2 separate regions of the Homo sapiens genome follow, and region 1 is linked to region 2. The links come from fine-mapping of genetic effects on gene expression. A gene starts in region 2. The other region holds a variant in brackets. All regions are shown on one strand. Distances are between the middles of the regions.

Region 1 (4,375 bases), 55 kb before region 2:
CCACCACCTTCTTAGCTCCAGAGGGTGCCATGCTTCTCACTAGAAGACAGGGAACAGTGACAGCTCGTTGCTCTCAATAGCAGGGCACTGGCTCTGAGCTCTGTACTAGCTCCCAGGTGGCAAAGGGCTGAAGGCATAGCCACCAGCTGAGTTGGAGAAGGTCCCCCATATAAGGTGACACCCCAGCTAGGCATGGAAGGAGACACCTCACTGTTCTCTGATCCTGCTGGGGCTCTGGTTCTCCTCACCCCAGCCTCAGCCCAATAACTGGGGACTTGCTGGCCACGGGAGAGATGACCTCAAGCTTCCAGGCACAAAACTCTCCAATTCTTGACCCAAGACACTACTATAGCAGCCGGGATTGAACCAAAGTATGCTTTCTTGGTAGCTTTGTGACAGTGTCCCCAGTACTCCCAGTTAGACACTCTGATTCCTTCAGTGGTTATGAAGAAAGTGCTGGCAGCACAAGTCCACATAATGGGGAGCCAGCTTTTGAGGCAATGAGACAAAATGCAGCATAGGGCATCCTGGGCCTCGGGGAAGGAAGCCCCTCCAGAGAGCGAGAGAGACATCTGCAGGAAGAGGCACCATGACGAGGAGAAGCTGTGGGGAGCAGAGCCTGGTCAGAGGGTGGCTATTCTGGAGTAATAGCCAGGGCCAACCCTGCCTTGTGGTGGTGGCACGTGGTGCACGGTGACCAAGGGGCCATCCACGTTTGTGGGAACTCAGTGTCCATCCCTCTTGAGTCCAAGGAGCCCTTCCCTTCTCTGCCAGCCAGGCTCCTCCTCGGCCTCCTCTCAGCCCCTTCTTCTCCCTGCTCCCTCTCCGTTCCAAGGTAGCTCCAGGGGGGCTCAGGGGAGCAACAAAGCCCTCAGATCAGTCCCCAAGTCCCCTCGTACCTTTTTTTTTAAGACAGGTTCTCCCTCTGTCACCCAAACTGGAGTGCAATGGCACGATCTTGGCTCACTATAGCCTCAACCTCCCAGGCTCAAGCGATCCTCACACCTCAGCCTCCTGAGTAGCTGGGATTACAGGCATGTGTCACCATGCCTGGCTAATTTTTAAATTTTGTGTGGAGACGATTTTGCCATGTCGTCCAGCTGGTCTCGAATTCCTGGCCTCAAGCTGTCTTCCTGCCTTGGCCTCCCAAAGTGCTGGGATTACACAGTGAGCCACTGTGCCCAGCCCTCTAATACCTCTTTGAGAGAGGACCATGGGTTTAGCTGTTCCCCTCCCTGACTCAAGCCTTAACCCAGAATTTAAGGCAGGCCCCCAGCCTTAGCTGCCCCCACTCACTCATTCCCTGTGTCCAGCCCCAGTGTCCCCATAGGAGTTCGGGGCACCCTCTGTCTCCTGCCGTCCCCAGCTGTGTCCCCACCAGCCTCATGCACAGTCCCAGGGCCATGGGGTAAAGCTTTCCTCCCCTCCCTGCCTCCTGGCTCATATTTGTTCCCCACCTGTCCCTCCGGAGTGGCCCTGTGGTCATTTTATTTATTTATTTATCTATTTATTTGAGATGGAGTCTCACTCTATAGTCCAAGCTGGAGTGCAGTGGCATGATCTCGGCTCACTGCTACTTTCACCTCCTGGGCTCAAGTAATTCTCCCCGGCGGGTGAGCCACTGCACCCGGCCCCTGTGGTCATTTTAAAACAGTCCATACATTCTTTGACTCTCCATTGAAAAGAAGACTTTAATTCCCCTTGAATTCCCTGAATGTGGCTTGCCTTAGCGACTTGTTCTAAAGAGCTGACTATAGCAGAAGTGATGCTGTGTCACTTGGGCCGGCGTAGAAATGATGTTGCAGTTTCCACCTGGCTCTCTCTCTCAGGACGCTTGTC[T/C]TTGGAACCCAGCCACTATGCTGTGAGGAAGCCCAGGCCACACGGAGAGGCCATGTGGAGGTGCTGGGCTCACAGCCAGCATCAGCCACCAGACGCGGGAGGGAGGGAGCCTTCAGGGGATCCCAGCCCCCAGGCTTCAAGCTGCCCACGCTGATGCAGAGTGGAGCAGAGACAGCTGCCCCTGAGCCCTGCCCAGACTGCATATTTGTAAGCCAAATAAATGTGATGTGAAACCACCAAGGTTTGACGGCACTCCAGCCTGGGCAACACAGTGAGACCCTGTCTCTTAAAAAAAAAAAAAAAAAAAAAAAAAAAAGGCCGGGCATGGTGGCTCATACCTGTAATCCCAGCACCTTGGGAGGCCGAGGCAGGTGGATCACGAGGTCAGGAGATCGAGACCATCCTGGCTAAAACAGTGAGACCCCGTCTCTACTAAAAATACAAAAAATTATCTGGGCATGGTGGTGCTTATAATCCCAGCTACTCAGAAGGCTGAGGCAGGAGAATCGCTTGAACCTGGGAGGGGGAGGTTGCAGTGAGTGGAGATCACGCCACTGCACTCCAACCTGGGTGACAGGGTGAGACTTGGTCTCAAAAAAAAAAAAAAAAAATTGCCAGGCGTGATGTCTTACGCCTGTAATCCCAGCATTTTGGAAGGCCGAGGCAGGCAGATTATCTGAGCTCAGAAGTTCCAGACCAGCCTGGGCAACATGGCAAAAGCGCATCTCTACTAAAAATACAAAAAATTAGCCTGGTGTGGTGGTGTGGGCCTGTAATCCCAGTTACTCGGGAGGCTGAGGCACAAGAATTGCTTGAACCCGGGAGGCAGAGGTTGCAATGAGCAGAAATCATGCCATTGCACTACAGCCTGGGTGACAGAGAAAGACTCCGTCTCAAAGAAAAAAAAAAGGTTTAGGGTTGTTTGTTACAGAGCCTTAGATGATTGGAACAGGTTGCAGCCTTGGTTGTGGCAGATTTCTGCCCAAAGATAGTTTGTGGGGGACAGTGAGGTTTGACGGGGTTCTTCAGCCTGAGGCCTCTGGGCTATTTGAGATCTCAGGACCTGGATTCCAGTCAGGCCACTCAGCTTTGACACCTATTTCTGCTAACCTTCCTCACTGGAACCCTGCTCTGTCATCTACCCAAGCCTGGCTGAGACTTGTGATGGTTAGGGCAGGCCCTGCCTACATTTGTTTGTGTTTTGTATACAATTTGCATATATCTGCATGATCATATTTTGGTGGATTTTTATTTTTTTTTTTGACAGAGTCTTGCTCTGTTGCCCAGGCTGAAGTGAAGTGTCGTGATCTCGGCTCACTGCAACCTCCACCTCCCAGGTTTAAGCAACTCTCCCACCTCAGCCTCCCGAGTAGCTGGGATTACAGGCAGGCACCACCATGCCTGGGTAATTTTTGTATTTTTTAATAGAGATGGGGTTTCCCCATGTTGGCCAGGCTGGTCTTGAACTCCTGACCTCAGGTGATCACCCGCCTCGGCCTCCCAAAATGCTGGGATTATACGCGTGAGCCACTGCACCCAGCCTTATTTTCGTGGGGTTTTTTGTTGTTGTTGTTTTGTTTTTTTTTGAGACAGAGTCTCGTTCTGTCACCCAGGCTGGAGTGCAGTGGCATGATCTCAGCTCACTGCAGCCTCTGCCTCCCCGATTCAAGCAGTTCTACTGCCTCAGCCTCCCGAGTAGCTGGGATTGCAGGCATGCACTACCACGCCTGGCTAATTTTTGTAGTTTTAGTAGAGACGGGGGTTTCTCCATGTTGGCCAGGCTGGTCTCGAATTCCTGACCTCAGGTGATCTGCCCACCTTGACCTCCCAAGGTGCTGGAATTATAGGCGTGAGCCACTGCGCCTGGCCCATTTTGTGGTTTCTAAACATTTCCAGACACCTCCCATCTGGGACTCTTAGAAGGGACAGGGGCACTGGATGTTACTTGTCTACTCCCCCAACCCCACAGGGTTGACTTGAACAATCACCTCCCCAGGCTGCCCTTGGATGGCTGAAGTTGTTAAAACATCTATGTGTGCAAAGTGCCGTGTAAAGAAAGAGTTTTATATCTATATTTGAGATAGTTCTTTCCTGGGATAATCAGGGAAAGTCAGCAACCTCCCTGGAGATTCAGGATAGGCGCCCTATAGGCCTCAGCGCTCTCTTGCCTGGTTCAGCATCCCTAGCACCGTCACTGGTCCTGACCTGACCTCGGGCCCAGCTATCCACAGGCCTCTTCTGGAAGTGCCTGGCCAGGTACCTTCAGATGTTCTTTTAGGATCACAATCCTGCTTTCAAGTGAAATTTCATCAAGAATCCAACATGGGCTCGGCACAGTGGCTCACGCCTGTAATCCCAGCACTTTGGGAGGCTGAGGGAGGTGGATCACCTGAGGTCAGGAGTTTGAGACCAGCCTGGCCAACAAGGCAAAACCCTGTCTCTACCAAAACTACAAAACATTAGCCAGGTATGGTGGTTGGTGCCTATAATCCCAGCTACTCGGGAGGCTGAGGCAGGAGAATTGCTTGAACTTGGG
Region 2 (4,318 bases):
GTCCCAGTACCCGGGGTACAGACTAGGTTGTGGCCCCATTGCCCCTCTCCTCTGGCACTCTGGGTGTTGGTCCTTTTGCCTTTGTCATAGGGAGAGATGAAGAGTAGCAAACACCAACTATGGTTTCCCAAAACCAAGGAAGAGGGTGCTCCTAGAACCTTTACTTCCAGCCAACCTCTCTGCTCCTGCAGAAGAGAAATGAGCAGGAAAAGAAGGAGGCCAAAGAATAGATGGGGTTAAGGCCAATCAGAGAATCAGAAGCCCGGCTGGAGGGACAAGCACTCCAATCCCAGGCATGATGCCAAGTCACCAACTTCTCCAGCAAACAACTTACCAGACCAGTTACAACTCCACTCGAGGAGGAATGAACCCACCTGGTCTGAAATGGCAGTCACAGACCCCTCCTCACATTTCCAGATAACTAGCGATCCTGGAGCTGGCCCCTCCCCAGCAGACTAGGGCCCTCCCTGGCTGAGGGAGATGGGGAAATGGGTGGGGAGAAAGGAGGGGCGTTGGGGTTATAGGCATTCCCCGCCCAGCGCCCCCCGCGCCCCCCTCCCCCCGTCCCCGGCCCAGGAAGATGTAATGTTTTAAGACTTTTTAGGATCGCACTTATTCAAACCCCTGCGCATCCTCCCCATGTCGTGAGTTCACCCGTCTTAGCCCCGAATCCAACCCTGGTATAGCTGTCGGGAATAAAGTTTTTCCTTGATGCGGACGCGAGCTTCTACTTCTTGGGAGAGGAGTGGAGAGAGAATAGCCCAGATGAGTGTCTGTGGGGAACTTGAGGTGGGAGGGTTAAGGGACTAGATTTGCACTCTCCTCCCGGGAGATGGGACCATTGCAGCCACTAAAGGGAACAGAGTGGTGGTGACCGAGCTCCAGGCAGCAGAGCCGAGCTCCAGGCAGCAGAACCGGCGGACCGCGAGAGCCAGGGCAAGGTCTCCGCGTGTGCACACTTCGGGGAAGGGCAGGGGCACGTGAGCATCCCCGCGGCTCGCTCGCTCTCGCTTTCGGTGGCTTCTCCTCTCCTTCTTGGCTCACGGGCTCTGTCCCGGGTCGCTCCCTAGCCACGCGCCGCCCTCCAGGAATCTCCCTCGTCTTCTCCTGTCTCTCCCGCGCACTCCTCAGCCCAGTACCAGCTCCAAATGCAGGTCGTGCCATCTCCGCCCAGTGCAGCCGTCAGAGTCCCGGTCTCCGCTCCCCAGGCTGCTGTCCCCTGTCTTGGCTGCCTCGGGCTATGTCCACGGCCGGGCACCCAGCACCCCAGCTCGTCCGCCTCGGTCAGCGCTTAGCCTTGCGGTCTCCCCTGGCTCGTTTCCCTCGGTCTCCACGCCAGCCCGCCCCGCTTGCTCCCGCTTCGCTGCACTCCTTGCTCCTCAGTCTGGGCTCCGGGTCCTGCCCCAGTCTTCCTCCGGGGGGTTCCGTCCTCAACACGCCCCTAGGGCCCCCAGCAGTCCGGCCTTGGTACCCTCTCCCCGTCCGGATCCGCAGGGTCCCCCCCGCGCGGGGTCCGCCCTCAGGTCCGCGCCGCTCTCCCCGGGTCCGCCCCTCGCGCCCGCTCCCTCCCTGCTCGCCCTTCCCCTGGCTCCGTCCGCAACCGCCCGGTCCGGGGCGCTTTCACTCACCCTCGCTCGGCGCGGGCAGCAGCAGCAACAGCAGCGGCAGCAGGAGCCGGGGCCAGAGCGGGGCGGGCGGGCGGCGCGGAGACGCGGCGCGCTGCACAGCCATGGGGCTCTCGGTCAGCTCGGCTCGGCGACGCGCGGCTCCCGGGCCTCTCGCGGCTCACAGCGTCCCGCGGGGCCGGCGCCGGGGCCGGGGCTGGGGCTCCGGCCGGGGCCGAGCCCAGGCGGTGGGGGACTGGGGCCGCATGCCTGCTCAGCAGCGCGGGGGGCGCAGGGGGAGCGCCGCTTGCGCCATCTTGCACCCACCCGGGCGATCTGTCAGCCTCGCCCGGGGTGCGCGCTCCACACTCGCACCGCTCGCGGCCGCCCCGCCCTCCTCCCCAGCCCGCCGCCCCCCTCCTCTCTGCTCCCGGTCCCCTCCCCCAGCCCCCTCTCCCCGGAGGCCCGGTCTGGGGAACAAAAGAGCCGGCGAGCGCTTTAAGCGGCCGGACATTCCCGGCTGCGCGGCGGACGCGCCCCCTGCGCTTTGAACTGTGGCTGGAGCGGCCGGCGCCGTCCCGGGCTGCAGCCGGGTATCCCCTCCCCGCGGGCCAGCCGGGGACCTGGGGGGCTGAGGAAGTGGACACCAGCGGACTGGGGAGTGGGTCCGGGCTGCGGAAAGACACACAGCTGCGGGATTTGCTCTGACCCACTCTTTCTGCTGCGCCCTCCTCCAAGTCCATATTTTAGAGATAATTCTCTAAAAAGCTGCGTAAAGTTGTCAAAGATTCAGTTTTCCATGGATTTCTGGTCCTTCCACTCAAAGGATAGATCCTGTAGCTGCAAGCTTGGCTTCTCTGGACCGAGGAGTCCTGGCGCTCCGCTGGGGAGGATTGCCTGGAGAGAGCAGACCCAGCAGCAGGACAATGAGAGCTCTAAAGGGGCCTGGCTTCCGACCTGGGTTCTGCCTGCTGCCTAGCCCAGTCACTCTCACTGAGCTCATCTGAAAGATGAAAATAATCTTATCTCTCCTGTTCATCCCTAGAGACCTTTAAACCGCAGAGGTCCTGACAAATGACCTGGTAACTGGAAAAGCACATAGAAAGTTAAAATTCCCAGTAACGTTTCTGTGCCACAAAGAAGGCCCTCAATCGTTCATGTCAGAGAACATATAAGGAGACAACAGAGGTCCCACGTGAGAATGTTACAGAAGATAAGCATGTCTTTTAGCAGAGACATACCCATACTAGCCCTCAGAGATCTTGAATCTCAGCCACTCTCTATTAAATGGTCTTCTGTTGAGTCCAGCATGATGGACTAGTCCATCAAAATTATTGAGCAGCTACTAAGTTCTAGGAGCTAGAGAATTAAAGCTGGCAGGCTAGGCTTAGTGGCTCACACCTGTAATCCCAGCACTTTGGGAGGCCGAGGTGGGCAGATCACTTGAACCCAGGAGTTCAAAACCAGCCTGGGCAACATGGTGAAAACCTGTCTCTACAAAAAATACAAACATTAGCCAAGCATGGCGGTGCATGCCTGGAGTCCCACTGTATTCCAGCCTGGGCAACACAGACCCTGTCTCAATAAATAAATAAATAATAAAAGTTGGCCTAATGTAGCTATTTGCTCCTTTGGCACTGGACTGGGATGGCAGAGGAAAAACTAAGTCTTTCTTTTGATACCAACTCTGGAACTTTGGGACCATGTACGAAACTAACGGTGGCTCACGCCTGTAATCCCAGCACTTTGGGAAGCTGAGGCGGGTGGATTACCTGATGTCAGGAGTTCGAGACCAGCCTGACCAATGTGATGAAACACCATCTCTACTAAAAATACAAAAAAATTAGCCGGGCGTGGTGGCAGGCGCCTGTAATCCCAGCTACTCGGGAGGCTGAGGCAGGAAAATAGCTTGAACCCGGGAGGCAAACGTTGCAGTGAGCTGAGATTGCACCATTGCACTCCAGCCTGGGCGACAGAGCAAGACTCCGTCTCGAAACAAACAAACAAACAAAAAACTAACTTTGATACGGATAAGTAAGGAAGTACAGGCCTCCAGAAATCAGAGTGCCTGTAGATGGACAGGTTTACTAATGATGAGGTTGGCATAGCTCAGGACTGTTCACTCTAGGGCAGCTACTGGAAGATGAGCCTGAGAAGCAGGACATGAGGCATGTGAACAGCGGGAAGCAATGGAAAAATTCTAGGTGGAGGACTCCAATGTGCCAAAGCCCTATTGGATTTCATTGTGAGAAAGGGTGGGAGTGGTGGTCTACTGGCCTTAGGAAAGGGAGGGGAAGGGCCCTCCCTGGGCCTAAAATCCTGGAACTCCCTCCTGCAGGGCTTGAATTCTCAACAACCCCTTCTTGGCTTGTCCTGGACTCTGAAGAGGTCAAATTGGTCTCTTGAATTGCTGTCATTTTAAATTCATTTTGACAAGTGTTTAATTCTTCTTTATCACAACCCTTGGTCTGAGAGTGATATGCAAATAATGGCTATTCTGCCGAGTGCAAAATGTGCAGTATCTCTCTGTCTGATCTGTCAATTAACTCTGGGTCTGGCCCACCACTTTGGGGGTGGTCCTGAGCAAAGCAGCCTCTAGCTCTTGATTCCCTCCAATAGAAAGCATGTTCCGGGCTCTGTAAAGATCTTAGCAGACAGCAGCTGCCAACTGTGATGCCAAGATGTGTGTGGGGTGTGAGTGTGGAGTTTTGTGT

Which allele goes with the higher level. Positions count from the first base shown, and alleles are read on the strand shown. Sizes are in standard deviations (SD) of each study's normalised expression.
With allele T in place of C in region 1, the expression in cerebellum of the gene that starts at base 1,945 in region 2 is lower (moderate effect, 0.47 SD a copy in GTEx).

The links. PIP is the estimated chance that this variant, and not a neighbour inherited with it, causes the effect.
Region 1: its variant is fine-mapped to the expression of IGDCC3 in cerebellum (GTEx, PIP above 0.99). The same link has a PIP of 0.9 or more in cerebellar hemisphere.

Annotation. Positions count from the first base shown.
Region 1 is chr15:65,321,379-65,325,753 of GRCh38, forward strand. No RefSeq gene overlaps it. Among named protein-coding and RNA genes, the nearest start is that of RNU5B-1, 19 kb to the left of the region's middle. The variant T/C (reference allele first, on the strand shown) is at 1,840.
Region 2 is chr15:65,376,058-65,380,375 of GRCh38, forward strand. IGDCC3 (immunoglobulin superfamily DCC subclass member 3) reads right to left here and starts at 1,945. Exons shown (of 14, transcript NM_004884.4): 1 at 1,629-1,945. The coding sequence starts at 1,731.